3 separate regions of the Homo sapiens genome follow, and all the other regions are linked to region 3. Evidence: fine-mapped expression QTL. A gene starts in region 3. Each other region holds a variant in brackets. All regions are shown on one strand. Distances are from middle to middle. Region 1 overlaps SLC7A1 (solute carrier family 7 member 1). Region 2 has its middle 67 kb from the start of SLC7A1. Region 3 holds the start of SLC7A1 (solute carrier family 7 member 1).

Region 1 (5,954 bases), 23 kb after region 3:
GGGGAATGGCGTGAACCCAGGAGGCGGAGCTTGCAGTGAGCCGAGATCGCACCACTGCACTCAAGCCTGGTGACAGAGCAAGACTCCGTCTCAAAAAAAAAAAAAAAAAAAAGCATTAGCTGCTCCAGTGAGTGCTACGAAATGTTAAGGTTTACCCTAGACCTTGGCTTTCCATTTTTATGTAAGATTTCAAATTTCAAAACAGGCTCTTTGAGAAGACAGCCTCCATTCATGTATTCATGTGTTCCACAGGTATTGGGTGAGCTCCTACAGGTGCTGGCACTGACTTTCCCAGGTTCTTGCCCTTATGGGCCATAACTCCCACAGATGAGTTCGTGTTCTTGTTCACGTGAGCACTAGGCAACATTAAGCGTCAGTGATATTTGGTGAAAATTAATAAAAAATGTACTTTCAGCTCTGAATGGGGAGCTCTGTAGGCCTTTCTGGAAGTTGCAAGGCATCTCCCACAGCTAGAGTGATAACACAGGCAGTTGGTCAAGAACCCTGTTTTTTAATGATTAAGTGAATGAAAGAGAATGTCACACTCTTACCATCTATCTTCATCCCTTTGTAAACTAAGCTCCTACTATTCTACTAAAACTGCTCACAATTTCAATTTCCTCTCTCTTGAATTAGACAATATCCTGATTTTGTCTCAGTCCTCACCCCCTGTGGTGTCTCTGAAACATTTAATACGATTGGCCATTCCTTTCTACAGATTCTCTAATTTTCTGGGTCTGTTGAAGGAGGCTTTCTTTGTTTTCAGCATGTGAGAGAGCTTGTCAAAGAATGGAGTCATTGCTTGTTAGTAGCTGGGTACGCAGAAATGCCTGTGGAAGTCAGGGTTCATGGTCTGCGGCTAGAAAGGTGCTGGGCAAAGGGGAGGTGTTCAGGCCTGAGGCCTGAGCTGTCAGTACCAAACCAGGGTTACCAGGTTTAGCAATAAAAATACTGGATGCCCAGTTAAATTTGAATTATAAATAAGCAATGGATACTTTTTTTAGTATAACTTTTTTATACTAAAAGATTATTTGTTGGCAATATTTGGGACATCATTGTGATATATTTGGGGCATACTTACATTAACCAATTATTGGTCATTCACATGAAATTTAGATTTAACTGGGCAGTCCTGTATTTGATCTGACAGCTCTTTGCTAAGTTACCATCCAGTCACATTGTCTTTTGTGGCTCCTGGTGCACTTTGAAAGGGGACGATGTGGGCCTTAAGGCAGACACACAGAGTCAGACACTCTCTGGCTTTAGAGAAGTCCGTCTGCCTTTGGACTCTAGAATTGCACCTCCCCATCATCTGTGTGCTACTTCCTCCTTCAGCTGCCAGAGTGTGGTGTTCCCCGCGATTCTGGTAACAGCTGCCTTCTTTTCTCCCAGGGATCTCACTCCCGGCAACACGTGCCTCTGGGTGTGCTCCACATCCAAGTTCCTCGTTTCAGATTCTCACAGCCCCACCTGCTTGCCAGATAGTTCTATCTGTTCTGTTGGACACAGGACATGTGGCAAGACTGCTTTTTGATCCGAGGATATTTTGACTGTCATTTAGGAATATAAATATTTTATCAGATATATGTCATCACCAAAGAATTTTTTGATGACAATATTGTCCTGAGTGACCTTCAGTTTAAATCATTGTGTTTTTAGAGCACAAATAAACCATTTACATTTTTCATGTTTCGTGACATTATTCTCTCCAGGATAGATTATTTGCTATCTGCATTTTCAAGAAAGGTTTCTTGTATTTACCAGCCACTTGTCTGTGGCAGATCTGACAGCTTTGAGCTTCTGTCTCTGTTTCTCCTGGACCACTTATCCCTTCCAAGTGGAGTTTTCCTCCATCAAATTGTGCAGCTTTAGATGTTGATTACCATGTTGAGTTGGCCCTTGCGGTTGTGTGTGTTGGCTGCTTCTGGTTGGTGTGGTTGGTGTGCACAGTCCCATGCAGGTTTCCCAGGATCACCTTCCCCGCCCAGTGCTGGTCAACTGTAGTGCTCGTGCCCATGTTTTATGAGCTTCTGATCACTTTGTAGATTACAAACTAGGGCAGAGAACGACTGGGGGAACCAGAGCGGTAGGGCCACAGTGCCTTACTGAGGGCCACCCTCAGCTCAGATTCAGTGCTTCCAAATCCAAGTTTAGGATTTCAGAGTTACCTTGGGCTCATTCCCTTCATATTGATGATAACTGATGGCATCCGGCCAGTCCTTCCTCCCCTGCCCCTCACATGGTCTTCTTGCTTTTCGTTCTAGTCCCACGCCCTGGTGCCGCGGGTCCTGAGTGTTTCTTCCCACTCCCCACCCTCTGTCTTTCCAGCATCCTCCTGGGTGGCCTCTGTACTTTTTCTCCCCTGTTAAATTACACTGGCACCTGCCCCTTTAGGTGGCGCCTGCCATTATTGACAGCGTGTGCGTGGAGTAGAAAATCCAATGAGTGACTCTTGTGTGAAGCGTCCTGGCTCTGCCCTGAGGGCTGGGGGGCCCGCACTGGTCCACTGGGCTTCTCTGGGCACAGATGTGACTTGGTGTGGGACCAGATGGCCTAGACAGCGTGTCGCACTTGGAGTCGTGCTTGGGACCCACAGGCGGCCGCTGCACCCTCACCACCTGCGTTTTGGGGCAGTGTCATGCATGCCACAGGCAGCCTCAGACCTGGGCATTGGTGCCTCCTTGGCCACTG[G/A]CCATCAGGCCTGCTTCCCTTGTGACATTTCACTTTGACCTTTCCTTTGAAGGTTTTTGAAGCAACACTGTACACGCAAAGGTCAACAAAGAAGAGTGGATGATAGGTGGACAGAAATGTAAGTTAAAAGGCAGGAAGTGAGGCTGCTTAATACAAGCAGGTTGGAGGGGATGAGCAAAACAAAAAATGCCCTTGAAATGATTCTTTAATCATTTGTCTTTAGAGACGTAAAGCGGGATATGGAAAACAAACATTTCCATTCAATGTATACACAGTTTGCAAAACAAATAACTGGGCTTTGTGAGTGTCCAGACCTCCTGGAAGGAGGAAAGCGGCTCTGGACTGGGCAATCCTTTTCCGCCTGAGTTCAGAGTGGAAGAAATTGGAGAAGCCGCCCCTCTGGTGGAATAGGTAAAGCAAAAGCCTTTCATTTCCTTAATGAAGTGTAATGCTTCCAAATTTGGCCCAAAAGCCAAACTGAGATGGAAAGGCCTCTGGGTGAGCGGGACTATCCATGAGTGAGGACCCCCCGGCAGATGTCTGATGGTCACTTCATTGCGATCTAGAAAGGCCACAGCCATGGCCAGCTCTTCACCACCCTGCATTCAGGCACCGCCAAGGGCTTTGGTGGTTGATGCTATAGAGCCTGGGACCTTTACATGTTTAAATGTTTTAAAATTAAAATCGGCCATAAAATGTCATTATGTTATGTTTTTATAATTTTCCCATTTTGTTTATGTTTGTAATAGTTTTAAGTCAATTTTAATATTTCTGGGCAACAGCCCTCAAGTCTTCCACCATCTGAATCAGGGCAGATGGAAATACATCAAACAATAACCTTATTTTATTTTTTAAACTGTATATTTGTATAGTACTTTGGTGATTACAAAATACAATTTTTGCTATTTTAATGGCAAAAACTGCAATTATTTTTGCACCAACCTAATACCTTCATATGGTATGGCAAAAACAGTTATCATTTTGGGTACTTAATCTTCACAGCACTTTATAAGTTGGCTACTAATGAGATGTCTTATACATTAAGAAACTAATAATAGTAATATAGTTAACATATAGCGCATACTATGCACCAGGTGCTCTGCAGTGCTTTACATATATAAATTCATTGAAACCTCCTCATCTTGCAAAGGAGAAAAGGGAGACTCAAAGAAATTAAATAACTTGCCCATCTTTTTTTTTTTTTTTTGAGACAAAGTCTCTCTTTGTTGCCCAGACCCAAGTGCAGTGGCATGATCATGGCTCACTGCCACCTCTACCTCCCTAGGCTCAAGTGATCCTCCCGTCTCAGCCTCCTTGGTTGCTGGGACTATAAGCACAAGCCACCATCTCTCGCTAATTTTTTTTTCCTGTATTTTGTAGAGACTTGGTTTTGCTATGTTGCCCAGGCTGGTCTCCAACTCCGGGGCTCAAGCCATCCATCCGCCTGACTTGGCCTCCCAAAGTGCTGGGATTATAGACGTGAGCCACCGTGCCCGGTCCCATCATGTTTTGAATCCAGTTTAACCTGAGAGTTTAACTTCTATCTGTCTCACTGTCTCTTGAGCCTCACAGGAGGAACAAGATGGAGGTAGGGGGGCGGGTGTGGGTGACACTGTCATTATCCCCGCTTCAGATGGTAGAACTGAAACAGCAACATAGCGTAACTTGTTCAAGTTCACACAGCGAGGGCAGGGCTTCTGATTCCTCATCAGTTCCGTGAGCAAATATGAAATGGGACATGGAAAGAATTTTTCTATTCAATGGCAAGTCAATAACGTTGCTTGATGCAAACTGCTAGGCCTTTGTACCCAGGCACGTGGCAGGCCGTGGCCTCCTCCTCCATGCTGAGTTCGGGGCAGAGGAGGTTCAGCAGAGGGACCACTGCACATAGCAGAGCAGCCATTCGTTTAATGCCAGAGGAACATGTGAATGAGCTTCCCCAGGATTCACAGGCAGGTGGGGAGCTGCTAGGTAATTTCACCTGCTGGCCCACCCAGGTAATGTGATTATGTGAATGTGGCATTCAGGGAGTTCTGTATGATGTTAGAAAACTTTTGTTTCTGGTTCTGTTTTTCTTTTAATTTGTGTAATGTGACCAGGACGTCTGTGGCCAGGCTAGCCAGCAGCCGTGTGCTTTGTTTGCTGGTTGGAGCCTGGCCAGCCATGGAGGTGGATCTGCGGGCCTTTGGGGCGACTCCTGCCTCAGCCTCCTAGAGCTCTGATAAGCACCGCTGAAACTCTTTGAGGTTCAGTGTTCTCATTTATGAAATGAGGACTGATGGTTGCTTTTCTAGGTATGTGAAAGACCTAGCACAGTGTCTGCTGCATACCAGCTGCTCAGATGTTATTGCATTACATTGAAGAATTTTTTAAAAATCTGTCTTGATAGTGCAATGTGTTGTTGTAACCTATCACTAGACTCACTGTGGGTACTCTTGAGAATGGGCTAGTGGTGATTAATCTGGTGTCCTTAGGAGCTCGATTTAGAAGGAGGAGGGCTATCATGTGATTATTGCAGCCCCCGCCTCATGAGGTCAAGCCCTCACACTTGCAGTGGGCCTGGTAGCTGCAGACATCCAGAGCTCACTGCCCCTAAGGCTGTTGCCATCAGGGGCCCTGCAGGGAGCAGAGTGCATTCTCAGGATGGGCAGTTTGAGGTGAGTTTAAATAAAGTGACTTTTTACAAAGGCAGGGCAGGGGGTTCACAGCCTGGAGTAGTGAGGGGGCCCTAACCACTTCTAACACCCTCAACCTGAGGGGAAGGGATGGTTTTGAGGCTGCACCTGGCTTGGTGAAGGGCCGATCTCCAATGAGACAGCCCGCAGAGAGGGTCCTCCTTCGCCTCACTCCTCCCTGCCAGTGCCCAGAGAGCTCGGGATGCATACAGGTGGGCCTCGTAGTGGGGAAGGCAGGGAGTGGCTCTGGGGGCAAACAGGATGCGATTTCAGACATGGGGCAGAGAGCCAGGTGCCCTCGGCTGAGCTGAGGACAAAAACAAGTCAGATGAGTTGTGCAGCCCACATTTTTCTTTGCTTTAGATAGGAGTCCGTTCTTAAAATGGAATCAAAGTGACTGGACAGAGACCCGTTTTGATGAATTTAAGCTGGTGGCTTGTTGGGTAATCTTCCTTCGCTTGCTTAGAAGCCTGGAGACCTGTGTTCAGGCGCGTCTGAGTCACTTGGTGTATTAGGACTTGAGTTGCCCTGTGGTAAAATAAAGGGACGGACTTGATCAGGGCTTATCAAGCAAGTGGTCTACAGGGC
Region 2 (5,954 bases), 68 kb before region 3:
CCACTGTCTAACTAGTCCCATTGAGATCAACTGGGTACCTCGGTTGGAAATGCAGAAATCACCCACCTTCTGCATTGGTCTCACTGGGAGCTGGAGACCAGAGCTGCTCCTATTTGGCCATCTTGCCCAGGAGTCTGGGGTGTATTCTTACAGATATTTTAAAATGTGTTTACATAGATACCAACATAGGCAAAAATAGAAGTAAACAGTTTTGTGTAGATTTTTAAATTTAGCATAGTATATTACATAACATGGTATTTCCCAACAATATGCTTTTTAAATTTAACAGTATATGTCTTAGATATATTTCAGTGCTCATATATATTGATCAAGCTTTTTAAAAATTGCCACAATGAGCCATAGTATAAAAGTATAACAGATTATTTAACCACTCTTAATAGACATTTAAGTTGGTTTCCAATTTTTTCACTGCTACAATCAATATTTCAAGTTTATATGCAAGTATTTCTCCACATTAGATAACTAGAAGTGGATTTTTGGATCATCTGGTATGTATATTTAACATTTTAATTTCTACTGCCATGTTGTACCTCAAAAGAGCTGTGCCACTTATAATGCAGGAAAATACTGTTTCCCCACTTCCTCATTAATGCTTGCTAAGATCAGTCTCTTCCGTTTTTGCCAAACTGATGGGTGGAAGTGATATCTCATTGCTGCTCTAATTTGCATTTCTCTGATTGCTTTGAAATTGAGGATCTTTTCCTTCCATTGCTGGTCATTTGCATGTTTTCCTCTAAATTGTCTTTTCAGAATCTTTGTCCACTTTTCTTTTGCATTTTCTCTTACTGATCTGTAGGAATTGATTATATATTCTGTATATTCATTCTTAGTCTCATATTATATATGTTGCAAATACCTTCTTGCACCATTTATTTTCCAACACCATTTATTGAATTTTTTACTTACTGGTCCCAAGTGCGACCTTTGTCATTTACTAAATTTCTATATATACATAGGTCTGTTTCTAGACTCTAAATTATGTTCCATTGATTTCTTTATTTCCCCCCTTATGTCACACTTTTTAAATTATTATAACTTATAGTGTACTTTGATAGCCTCCTTAGTCTCCTATTTCAAAATAGACTTTGCTGGTCTGGTACATGTTCTCTTCCAAATAAAAATGTAAAACCATTTGACATGTGTTGTAAGATTTGAGATGGGGAGGAGGTTTTGAGTGGTATTGCAAAGAATTTATAGATTAATTTGGGGACAATTGACCTTTTTAAAATATTGAGTCATCCAAATTAGGAACGTGATATAACTCTCCATTTATTCAGTTTTTTCTTTAATAAGTTTTTTTTATCCTTATGAGTGTTATATTTTGCTTATTATTCCTAGGAATTTTAGAGGTTTTTTTTTTTTTTTTTTTTTTTTGAGACGGAGTCTCGCTCTGTTGCCCAGGCCGGACTGCGGACTGCAGTGGCGCAATCTCGGCTCACTGCAAGCTCCGCTTCCCGGGTTCACGCCATTCTCCTGCCTCAGCCTCCCGAGTAGCTGGGACTACAGGCGCCCGCCACTGCGCCCAGCTAATTTTTTGTATTTTTAGTAGAGACGGGGTTTCACCTTGTTAGCCAGGATGGTCTCGATTTCCTGACCTCATGATCCACCCGCCTCGGCCTCCCAAAGTGCTGGGATTACAGGCGTGAGCCACCGCGCCCGGCCATTTTAGAGGTTTTATTGGTGGTGTAAATGCAATTATTTTTTCAATTTCTAATGGTTTTGGTAAGCAAATTGAGAAGCTATTACTTTTCATATGTTGATTTTATATGCATTCACATTCACATTTATATGTTAAATAGGGTTTTAATTTATTTTCTTGGACTTCATGGGTAGATAATTATATCATTCTAAATCAAATACATTTTTGGTTTTTCTTGTCAATATTCATGTTTTTGTTTTTTCCTTATCACATTGGCCAAGGATGTCCAGCACAGTGAATGACGCAGCAGCCTTTCCTTGTTCCATTAATAGTAATGCTTCTAATTTTTCATCATTTATTATGGTATTTGCAATAGGTTTCTGTCATATATACCTATTACATCAGACTCCAAATAAGAAATTGATAACATTTTGAAATAGCATAATCTGAGAAGAGTTTGTTTATAAAGAGTAGATCCTCATTATTCACGATTCTATATTTGCAAATTTACCTACTTGTTAAAATTTATTTGTAACCCTATTACCAATAACCACCTTACTTTCTCAGTAATTCATGAACATTAATACACAGAATGGTGAAAAACAAATGGAGTCACCAAAGTGCATCTTCCTAGCTGATGTCAAACAAGGCGACATCTGCCTTGTTGTTTAAGCTCTCATAAGTAAGCATGCATTTTTTCGTGGTTTATCTAGTACCACATGTTTTGAATTTCTGTGCTTTTTCTTGTGATTTTTCTGTTTAAAATGGCCCCGAAACACATTGCTGAGGTGCTGTCTATTTAGTGAAAGAAGTTGTTGACGAAAAGAGTCAAACTCTGTAAAATATTTTAAGAGATTTATTCTGAGCCAAATATGAGTGACCATGGCCCATGACACAGCTCTCAGGAGGTCCTGAGAACATGTGCCAAGGTGGTTGGGGTATAGCTTGGTTTTATATACTTTTGGGAGGCATGAGACATGAATCAAAACATTTAAGAAATACATTGGTTTGGTTCAGAAAGGTGGGACAACTCAAAGTGGGGGCTTCCAGGCTATAGGTAAATTTAAACATTTTCTGGTTGACAATTTGTTGAGTTTACTGGAAGACCTGGGATCAATAGAAAAGAAATGTTCAGGTTAAGATAAAGGATTGTGGAGACCAAGTTTTGTTGTGCAGAGGAAGCTCTCAGATAGCAGACTTTAGAGACAGCAGATTGTAAAATGTTTCTTATTGGACTTAAAAGCGTGCCTGACTCTTGGTTGATTATCTCCTGGATTTGGAAAGGAAGGAAGGAAAACAAAGGGGATTCTCTATAGAATGTAGATTTTCCCACAAGACACTTTGCAGGGCAAGTTTAAGATATGGCAGAGAAACATGTTTTGGAATAGAACATTTTGATTTTCTTTCTTGTTATTCCAGAGTTACATTGGAAAATAAATCACGATATACAAGGTTAAATAAAACCCATCTGATGAGAATTTGTGGTTTGTAGGACATGATTCCCCAGACTCCTTAGATAGGAGTTTCTGCAAGATAAAAAAAAAAAGTCAGAGTTTAGTCCTCAAAGGCTATGATGTGCCTTAAGGAGAAAATAGGTGTGTTGGAGAAGCTTCATTCAGGCATGAGTTATAGTGCTGTTGGCTGTAAGTTCAATGTTAAT[G/A]AGTCAATGATATAGATTAAATATGTGTAAGAAACACATAGAAAGCAAGGTTATGTATCAATTGGTTAATGAAAATATTTGACCAGAGGCTCACAGGTACCTAACCTTGTATTTCCTCTAGGAGTGATGATTTGGTATTTGTTAATTCAGTGTTTGTAATGATTTTGTAGTACACATCTACCTCCAATAACAAGAATTTGCTGTATTGACAAAGGTTCAGGTAAAGGGTACCACAAGGGATAGAGAAGCAATCCAGGGCTCAGGAGCAGCTGCACTTCCAACACCTCTAAGGGAGAGGGTTGAGGAGGGAACACGTGCCAGAACGCAGAAGGAAGAGTCTGTGGAGTCCACTGCCTTGAGAGCTCCAGCAACTACTCAGGTGACCTTGCAGGGAGGAGATCCAGAAACAAATACCCTGACCCACTCTCCTCTTTCCTCCAGCTTCTTGGTGAGGTTCCTGTTAGTTTCAGGAGGAAACCAGAGGACCCACCAGGAGAGTAGAAACCTTTGCCAGGGTCTCTGCAGATGAATGAAAACTGGAACTTACGGGCCCAGGGAATACAGCCAGCATGGTACATCAGTTGAAGGAAGGGTCTGTATATTCCCAACTTACTAAAGAGCCTTTATTTTTCTTTAAAAAAAAAAAGGAATTGTTGAATTTTATACAATTATTTTTCAGCATTTATAGTTTCTCCTTTAATCTGTTAAGGTTAGTATTATATTAATAGATTTTCTAATGTGAAGCTACCTTCAATTACTGGATAATTTAATTTGACTACCTTGTCTTATCTTTTTAATAACTTGAGTCAGTTTGTTAATGTTTTATTTTGGATTTTTTTTGAAGGGACGGTCAATTGCGATTGAAATTGGCCTCTAGTTTTCCTTTCTAGTTTTAGTACCATGGTAAATCTAGCCTCCAAAAATTATGTTAGAAGATTTCCATTTTTTCTACTCTGTAATAGTTTTTATAATGTTGGAATTATCTCTTCCTTGAATAATTTTTAGAACCCAACACTTTCTGAGCAATTTCTTCTTACAGTTTTATCAAATTTCATTTTCTTCCTTTACTTTTTCTTTATTATATTATTCTTTAATCCCCCAAAATGCATGCAGTAATATGCACAACAACTTTAAAGTAGACATACAAAGTAAAGATGCTCTCCTTGTTCTTGCTGTGTTACTATCCACTAAGATGACCAATATTGATATCTTGGGTGCATCCTTTCCCACCCTGCTCCACACTCATTCAAATGTACACAAATAAGTAAAGTGTGTGTGTTTTTTAATGGATCACATTATACACATTGTAAAAAGTAAAGTAGAGGTTCCTCTTCAAAGACTTTCCTCCCCATTTAATTAGGAATAAATAGTAACTTCTTTTAGAAGCAAAATTTATTCAAAGACCTGTGCTAACATTCTTAAATATCTGCTAGCCATGATAAAGAAATCAACGTTCTTTAGTTCTTAGCTCCCACAATTTAGCTTAAATATTTGTCCTGTCATGCTTATACTAGTCCAAGCCAGCATTAGGTCATAGCCTGTTCCTCTTCCTTATTTGAAGGTGTTTTTACCTTTCTCAGCATTCCACAAGTTACTTCCTCCTTCCTTTGTTCTCCTCTACCTTTGCCTCTTTTAAAAAGTTGTAAGTTGCTAGCCAATCGGGACAAATACAGAATGTGAGGTCCTGTTCCAGCCAATGGAAACCAGACACAGCAGTAGAGTGGACACATCAGGTTATAAATGACCCTGTCTCCTTTGTTCAGTGTACTCTCATGGCAAAACTGCTGGCGAGTGTACCCTTTCTGCAGAAAGTATAAAAATGGCCTTGCCGAGCAAATTAAATTTAATGTTCAAGTGCTGTTTCTTTACAGCACTGGGGAACAAGCATTTCAAACAACATTATTCTGCAATTTCTTTTATTCTCTGCAACTAGTATATAATTAATATCCTTCCAGGTAATACAGATAGTGTAACTCATTGTGTGTAATAGCTGCCTAATAGTCCATTGTATGAACACACCATGGGTTAATTGCACATCCACCATTCCTTTATAGATGGAGAGTTAGGCTTGCTTTCTCTTTTCTTTTCTTTCTTTCTTTTTCTTCCTTCCTTCCTGCCTGCCTGCCTTCCTTCCTTCCTTCCTCCTTCCTTCCTTTCTTTCTTTCTTTCTTTCTTCCTTTCTTCCTTTCTTCCTTTCTTCCTTTCTTTCTTTCTTTCTTTCTTTCTTTCTTTCTTCTTTCTTTCTTCGAGACGACGTCTCACTGTTGCCGATGCTGGAGTGCAGTGGCACAATCTTGGCTGAATGCAACCTCTGCCTCCTGGGTTCAAGCAATTCTTCTGTCTCAGCCTCCTGAGTAGCTGAGACTACAGGTACTCACCACCACACTTGGCTAACTTTTGTATTTTTAGTAGAGATGGGGTTTCACCATATTGGTCAGGCTGGTCTTGAACTCCTGACCTCCAGTGATCTGCCTGCCTTGGCCTCCCAAAGTGCTGGGATTACAGACGTGAGCCACCACGCCCAGCCCTTTTTGTTGTTGTTGTTACTACAAATATTGTCTCTGTAAATATCTTTGTATACCAGTACTTTTATTTTTATAAAATAGATTCTGAAAAAAGTGGGATGACTGAGTA
Region 3 (5,770 bases):
TCATTTTTGTATTTTCAGTAGAGACGGGGTTTCACCATGTTGGCCAGGATGGTGTCAATCTGCTGACCTCATGATCTGCCTGCCTTGCCCTCCCAAAGTGCTGGATTACAGGCGTGAGCCACCGTGACAGGCCAGATTTGTTGCTTTAAAACAAAGCATATATGGTGGCTTACTATGATGTCAAGCACTGTTCAAAGCACATTACAAAGCTGGGCAGGATGGTGCTCGCCTATATTTCCAGCTACTGGGGAAGCTAAAGTGAGGCGATCGCTTGAGCCTAGGAGTTCAAGGCTGCAGTGAGCTATGATGTTGCCACTGCACTCCAACTTGGTGACAGAGTGAGACCCACTCTCTAAAACAAAGACAAAAACACATTTTACAACTGCTAAGCCATCTGCATGTGTTCATTAAAACTTTTTCTGGGGACTTTTTCTGGCTCATCCCTGTAGTCCCGATGCTAGGGGAGGTTGAGGCAAAATGATCGCTAGACAGCTGGTATTTGAGGCCAGCCTATGCAACATATCAAAAACCCGTGTCTATATGTAGAAAAAATATTAACTAGGCGTGATGACACAAGCCTGTAGTTCCATCTGCTTGGGAGGCTGAGGCAGGAGGATGGCTTGAGCCTGGGAATTTGAAGTTCCAGTGAGCTATGATTGTACCGCTGCATTCCAGCCTGGGTGACAGAGTGAGACCCCTGTCTCTAAAAAACAAACAAATGACAACAGCAACAACAACAGAACACTTTTTCTGAAGCTAGCACCATGCAGTTATGTACTTTATAAATTGCTAGTCTAATTCCAAGGGAATAGTTCAGCAGCTGATATTTGAGAAGGACCTGTAGAAAGGATTCAAAGACCACGGACACCGTCCACTGTTTTTCTGTTTTCCTATAAGATAGAAGAAGGATGGCATTATTAATTTATGCCCTGTTTACCTATCCCAAGTCCCAGATCACTGGATCTTTAAAGATTATGATTCTCGCTTGGCTTTTGGTACAAAAGGAGACAAGGAGGGAGCTTAAAAGGTGAGCACGGTGTGATTCAGGACTGAAGCTTCTGCCACTTCCTGGGGGGTAACTGCAAAAGTGAGCCGTTCTGACTAGCCGTTTGTGCATTTGCCACTGCCAAGGGGGCACAGGTAGATTCAAGCTTTGGGGCTCTTCTGACAACTGGCAAGGATAAGGTATTAGCAAGGGCAAAGGAATAGTAATAAAATAATCCAATAACAAAGACATGAAGATTTATAATAATTTTTAGGCCGGTGCAGTGTTTCAGGACTGTAATCCTAGGGCGCTTTGGGAGGCCCAGGCGGGAGGATCGCTTGAGGCCAGGATTTCGAGGTTAAGGTGAACTGCGCTCCAGCCTGGGCAATAGAGTAACACCCTGTCTCTAAAATGAAAAGAAAACAGTTTAAACCTTTTAAGTGCATACCAAATCTTTTATTTTGGAGAAGGAAAACTGGTCTCGAGTTCCGTGTGAGCTCCCTGGGGCCCGCCGGGAGGGGGTTGGCACGGCCGGACCTGCAGCACTAGTTCTGGCCAGGGCGCTGTGGGATCTGCAGGGGACCACAGGATGCTGTGGCGCGGTGCGCTCAGATTGGCGGAGAAACGGCCACACGCCTACGGAGCTACTGAGAAGGCGAGCGGAGGCGCAGCCCGCCCGCCCGCCGCGGGAACCCCAGGTTGGGGCGCTGGGCGCGCGAAGACTCAGCCGCCCCGCCCACCAAGGGCGCGTCGGTCCCCGGCCGCAGCCTCTGGGCTGGCAGCCGCCGCCGCGCCGCGCTCCCATTGGTGCCCGGCGGTGACGCGGCCGAGCGGGCCGGGGCTGCCTGGTCCGGGGGCGGGCGTGGGGCGCGGGGCGCGGAGCGCGAGGGGCGGGGGCCGGGCGCACTGCTGATGAAACCTGGCGCCGGAACCCGCCAGCCCTCGGCGCCCATTCAGTCCGCGCAGGCAGGTGTGAGCAGCGGGTCAACTACCTGGCAGGCGCGCACGCGGCCGCGGGCTCCCGCTAACCGCAGCCTCCACTCCTCTCCCCGCGCGCCGCGCCCCCGCCCCGCCCCGCCCCGCCCGGTCTCGCCGGCCGAGCGTCCGTTGGTCCTTGAGCGCGTCCGACAGTCTGTCTGTTCGCGATCCTGCCGGAGCCCCGCCGCCGCCGGCTTGGTGAGTGCCCGGCCCCGCCAACGCAGGGGGCAGCTCCTTGGGCCCGGGTCATCACGGAGGGGGCCCTGGCGCCGCGTGGGGCCGCGGCAGGGCGGCGCGGGAGTGGCGAGGGCCCCCGCGCCGGGAACGCTGCCATCCTCTGGGAAGGGCCAGGACCAGGGCCGGGCGGGCCCCGGAGTGGGCGAGCGGGGCTGGTGCCCATGCGACTGTCGCCTCCACGGAGTCCATTTTGGCTCCCTGAAACCGCGGCGTGGTGCATGATGCAACACCGAGTGAGTAAGCGTGGGCGATCTGGCGATGCCCGCTCCGCGCGCCTGTCCGGGGACCCGCGCGCCGCTACGCACGGGGTGGTCGGGGTGCGTAGGCGGGCGGCGGGCACGGGGGCCAGACTGGGAGGCACACGGAGCCCGCCGGCGGCGAGGAGACCTTCCCTTACATGGCGCGGTGCAGAGCACCCCGCCCCGCCACGAGGTCCGGGGATGTGTCATCAGCCGTGGGTGGGGACTCTGCCCGGCCGCCCGGAGGGTGGTCCCGCGGCAGGTGGCCGGCCCAGGGACTCTGCTGCCATCCCCGCCCGGTGGCCGCCCTGACCTAGGGCGCCTGGCTCTCCGCTTGTCCCTAGAACCCGGGACGCGCCGCCTGCACCTCTCGTCTGGGTCCCCAAGATTGCTTTGAGGAAGTCTCCCCTAGGTGGGCTTCCTTGTGACCCAGTGTGGCCTGGAAAGGCCGGGTTCCTCAAGCCCTCCACATGGTTTGGAATGAGAGGAAGTTCTTCCGCCTTTAGCAAGACACCGTATTCTCAGGGTGTTCCTTTCTGCGTAGTAGAAAACTTCCCAGGCATGGGCAGGTCAGAGTCATTCTAAAACCTGCGCGTACACAGAGCGGCAGCTGCACTGTAGTACTACAACAGCCTGCTGGTTCAGCTCCTGACCCTTTCCAGGGGATGGGGGAACCAGACAGCAGTTGTGTTTGACTTGTGTGACTAGGATAGTCAGACATGTGCCTTCAGGAAAAAAATAAATAAATAACCTACATTTCCCAATACTCACGTCATCACCGCCATGCCCTCATGTGTTGGGTTTTAGTCCAGACATAGTTACCAGATGGTTGAGATTTCAATCCCAGGTGTATCTCCCTAAAGAATGTGCCTTTTATCTTACTTACATTCGACTAGTAGAATTGTGTATGTCGGCCTCTGGCCGAATGCCCTAATTGTATTTAATTCGAATTATAATTTATCTGGGATTTTTCCTAACATTTCTTGCCCTTTATGTTTGGTTCAGATAATAGGAAACCATGATACATTTATTCCTCTGGTATTTTTAGTTGATCTCAGTGGAAATTACCATGATTTTTATATGAACACACCCTCCTGTTATTAAAACAAAAGGTCTTATTTAAGTCACACGAACAGAATAGAAACTTAGGGGAAAGGTCAACAATAGATTAAAATGGTTTTAAAAATAGGTTTAGCATATTACGATCATGTTTAATTATTATAAAGGTAAAATTCAAAGGATGTCAAAGGAGTTTTGAGTAAAGAGGAAAGGGCTTAGTAAGTAGATCAGAAATGTACTCCCTTGTCTGGGTCTGGATCCTAGAGCCACGTGCTCCTGTACATATGATTACTTGCTTTAGGTGAAAAAAAAAAAGAAAGGCTTGAAAGACAAGACTGTTGACTTCAGGGAGTTACAATTTTCTATTTGGTAGAAGAACTCATTCTTTGATGGAATTAAATACGTGTTGATTGATTATTCTGGTCTGTAGTTTATTTTAACCAAAGTCCATACAAATAGATAATTATGTTGGAGGGCTCAGAATTATGTCCAATTAAATTAATCCTTTCTCATTATCAACCATGTATTTGGAGGGATTGCTATTAATCCTAGGGACAAATTTGAAATGTGAATAAGTGCATCCTTGTTATGGAGAAAAATATTGTTTCCCTCTAACCTTGGAGATACTTGAGTCTCGGAGTTATCTCTTCCAGAGGCATCTTCAGAGATGCCTATCACTCCACCTGCCTCTTGGTCCTCACTCCAAGCAAGACCTTCCGATAGGATGTGGTGTTTTTCTGTATAGTTGGCCCCTGCAGACCTGGATAGATTTTAAAGGCAGATCCAATAGGATTGGCCGGTGGATTCATGGAAGGACGAGAAAGGTCAAATATGACTCCAAGCACATCGGAGTTGCTGTATTAATGAGATGGGAAGGCTGAGCAAAGAACGTGTTGGATGGAAGAGGGACTTTTTGAAAGTCACAACTGACCTTTTTAGAACTCTTATCCCCAGGGTCAGGGCTGGAAGATGTATCTTCTTGGGGCCCCTCTCAGGTGCCTGCCTGTGTGTTGCAGCCACCCGTCCAGGCTGCTGGCCTCCTTCCCCTTCACCTAGCTTTACTGGCTCCTCTCGCCAAATCTGGGGGGTCTCTTCAGCCTCTGTCTCCTTGCTGCCCATGGCCTCCCTTTGCTCCCCTGCCGCCTTCTAGTGGGCCGCCTGGTGGTGGACTTGTCCTGTGGGATGGAGACCCTCCATACATGGGGTTCAAAGGTCCTGGGGTATTCCTGGATCTTCAGGACATCTGCCTACCCTCAGGTTTCCCAGGCCTCGGGTGGGGAGGCATCAGATCCCTGGCCAACCTGCTATCCACCCCAGGGTTTAGACCTCTCTTCCCGTGAGGGAACAGAGTAGTAGCTTCATTTGTGGCAGATTATCTGCCTTGTGATAAACTTTAGTGGCCTCCCTTTCTGTTTTGCCATAATCTGCCTCCTCCCCCACTCCCATACCCATCTACAAAGCAGCCTTGAAAATAACCACCCCTGTGGTTCAGTGTGGGTCATGATCTGTCAATCCAGGCTTAGTACATTTCCAAATGGAATTACCAGAAGGATGGGCATCAAACTGGGAAAATGATTTGGTGGCTTGCTAGCCGTGTTCCTTTTTCTCCCAAGGCATTCGTTCAGATGTGCAGTGTTGGCAGACCCAGGGGATGCCATTTACCTGGCCCACTGGTCGAGATTTGGTCATCCCAGGAACTTGGGCTTCAGAAAAGATGTTTCTGGGCTTTGGACCAGATTCTGGCTGGTCTGTGGTTTGCCCCTCCTGCCACACCCAGTGGCTTTCATTGGGCTTTTTTCCTCTAGTTATTGTCAGGAACAGTGGGGAATGGCAGGTATTGCATTTGGTGAACACACTGGATAACTGGAATCAGAGCCGTGTGACTGAGGGAAGAGGCCTTCACAGCTTCAATGCAGAATGGGATGATTATCTGCCCTGAAACGAAGGATGCTTCTTTGAGGGGAGTTGGGACCAATACTGGGAACAGCACCGCTCCTGGCTTCTCTGGCTTTGCTTCTCTCTGAAGTAATTTAGACTTCGTGAACCTTACATACTGGCTCCATCTGTATATTGGGAGAGCCTGTCCCTCTCAGCCTCACAGTAGTGAAGTTAGGAAGCATGGAGTCCACAGTGTTCTTTGAAAGAATCAAGGCACCAAGTCCATGCATTTACATTTCTCTCTTGAGATCAGTCCTTTTGTTAGCAGCCTGCAATTCTGACCACGGCAACCAAAAATTTCTGACCGTGGCAACCAAAAATCAAGCGCGAGGAA

Evidence for each region. PIP is the estimated chance that this variant, and not a neighbour inherited with it, causes the effect. A credible set is the group of variants that fine-mapping cannot tell apart.
Region 1: its variant is the best candidate, but not a certain one, in a credible set for the expression of SLC7A1 in adrenal gland (GTEx, PIP 0.62).
Region 2: its variant is the best candidate, but not a certain one, in a credible set for the expression of SLC7A1 in whole blood (INTERVAL, PIP 0.80).

Annotation. Positions count from the first base shown.
Region 1 is chr13:29,568,802-29,574,755 of GRCh38, reverse strand. All of the region lies in intron 1 of SLC7A1 (solute carrier family 7 member 1), which reads left to right. Among named protein-coding and RNA genes, the nearest start is that of SLC7A1, 24 kb to the left of the region's middle. RefSeq lists an enhancer at 1,285-1,404. The variant G/A (reference allele first, on the strand shown) is at 2,692.
Region 2 is chr13:29,659,463-29,665,416 of GRCh38, reverse strand. No RefSeq gene overlaps it. Among named protein-coding and RNA genes, the nearest start is that of SLC7A1, 67 kb to the right of the region's middle. The variant G/A (reference allele first, on the strand shown) is at 3,321.
Region 3 is chr13:29,591,807-29,597,576 of GRCh38, reverse strand. SLC7A1 (solute carrier family 7 member 1) reads left to right here and starts at 1,889. Exons shown (of 13, transcript NM_003045.5): 1 at 1,889-2,161. RefSeq lists silencers at 1,523-2,762, 2,931-3,225 and enhancers at 2,873-3,002, 4,092-4,591, 4,592-5,093.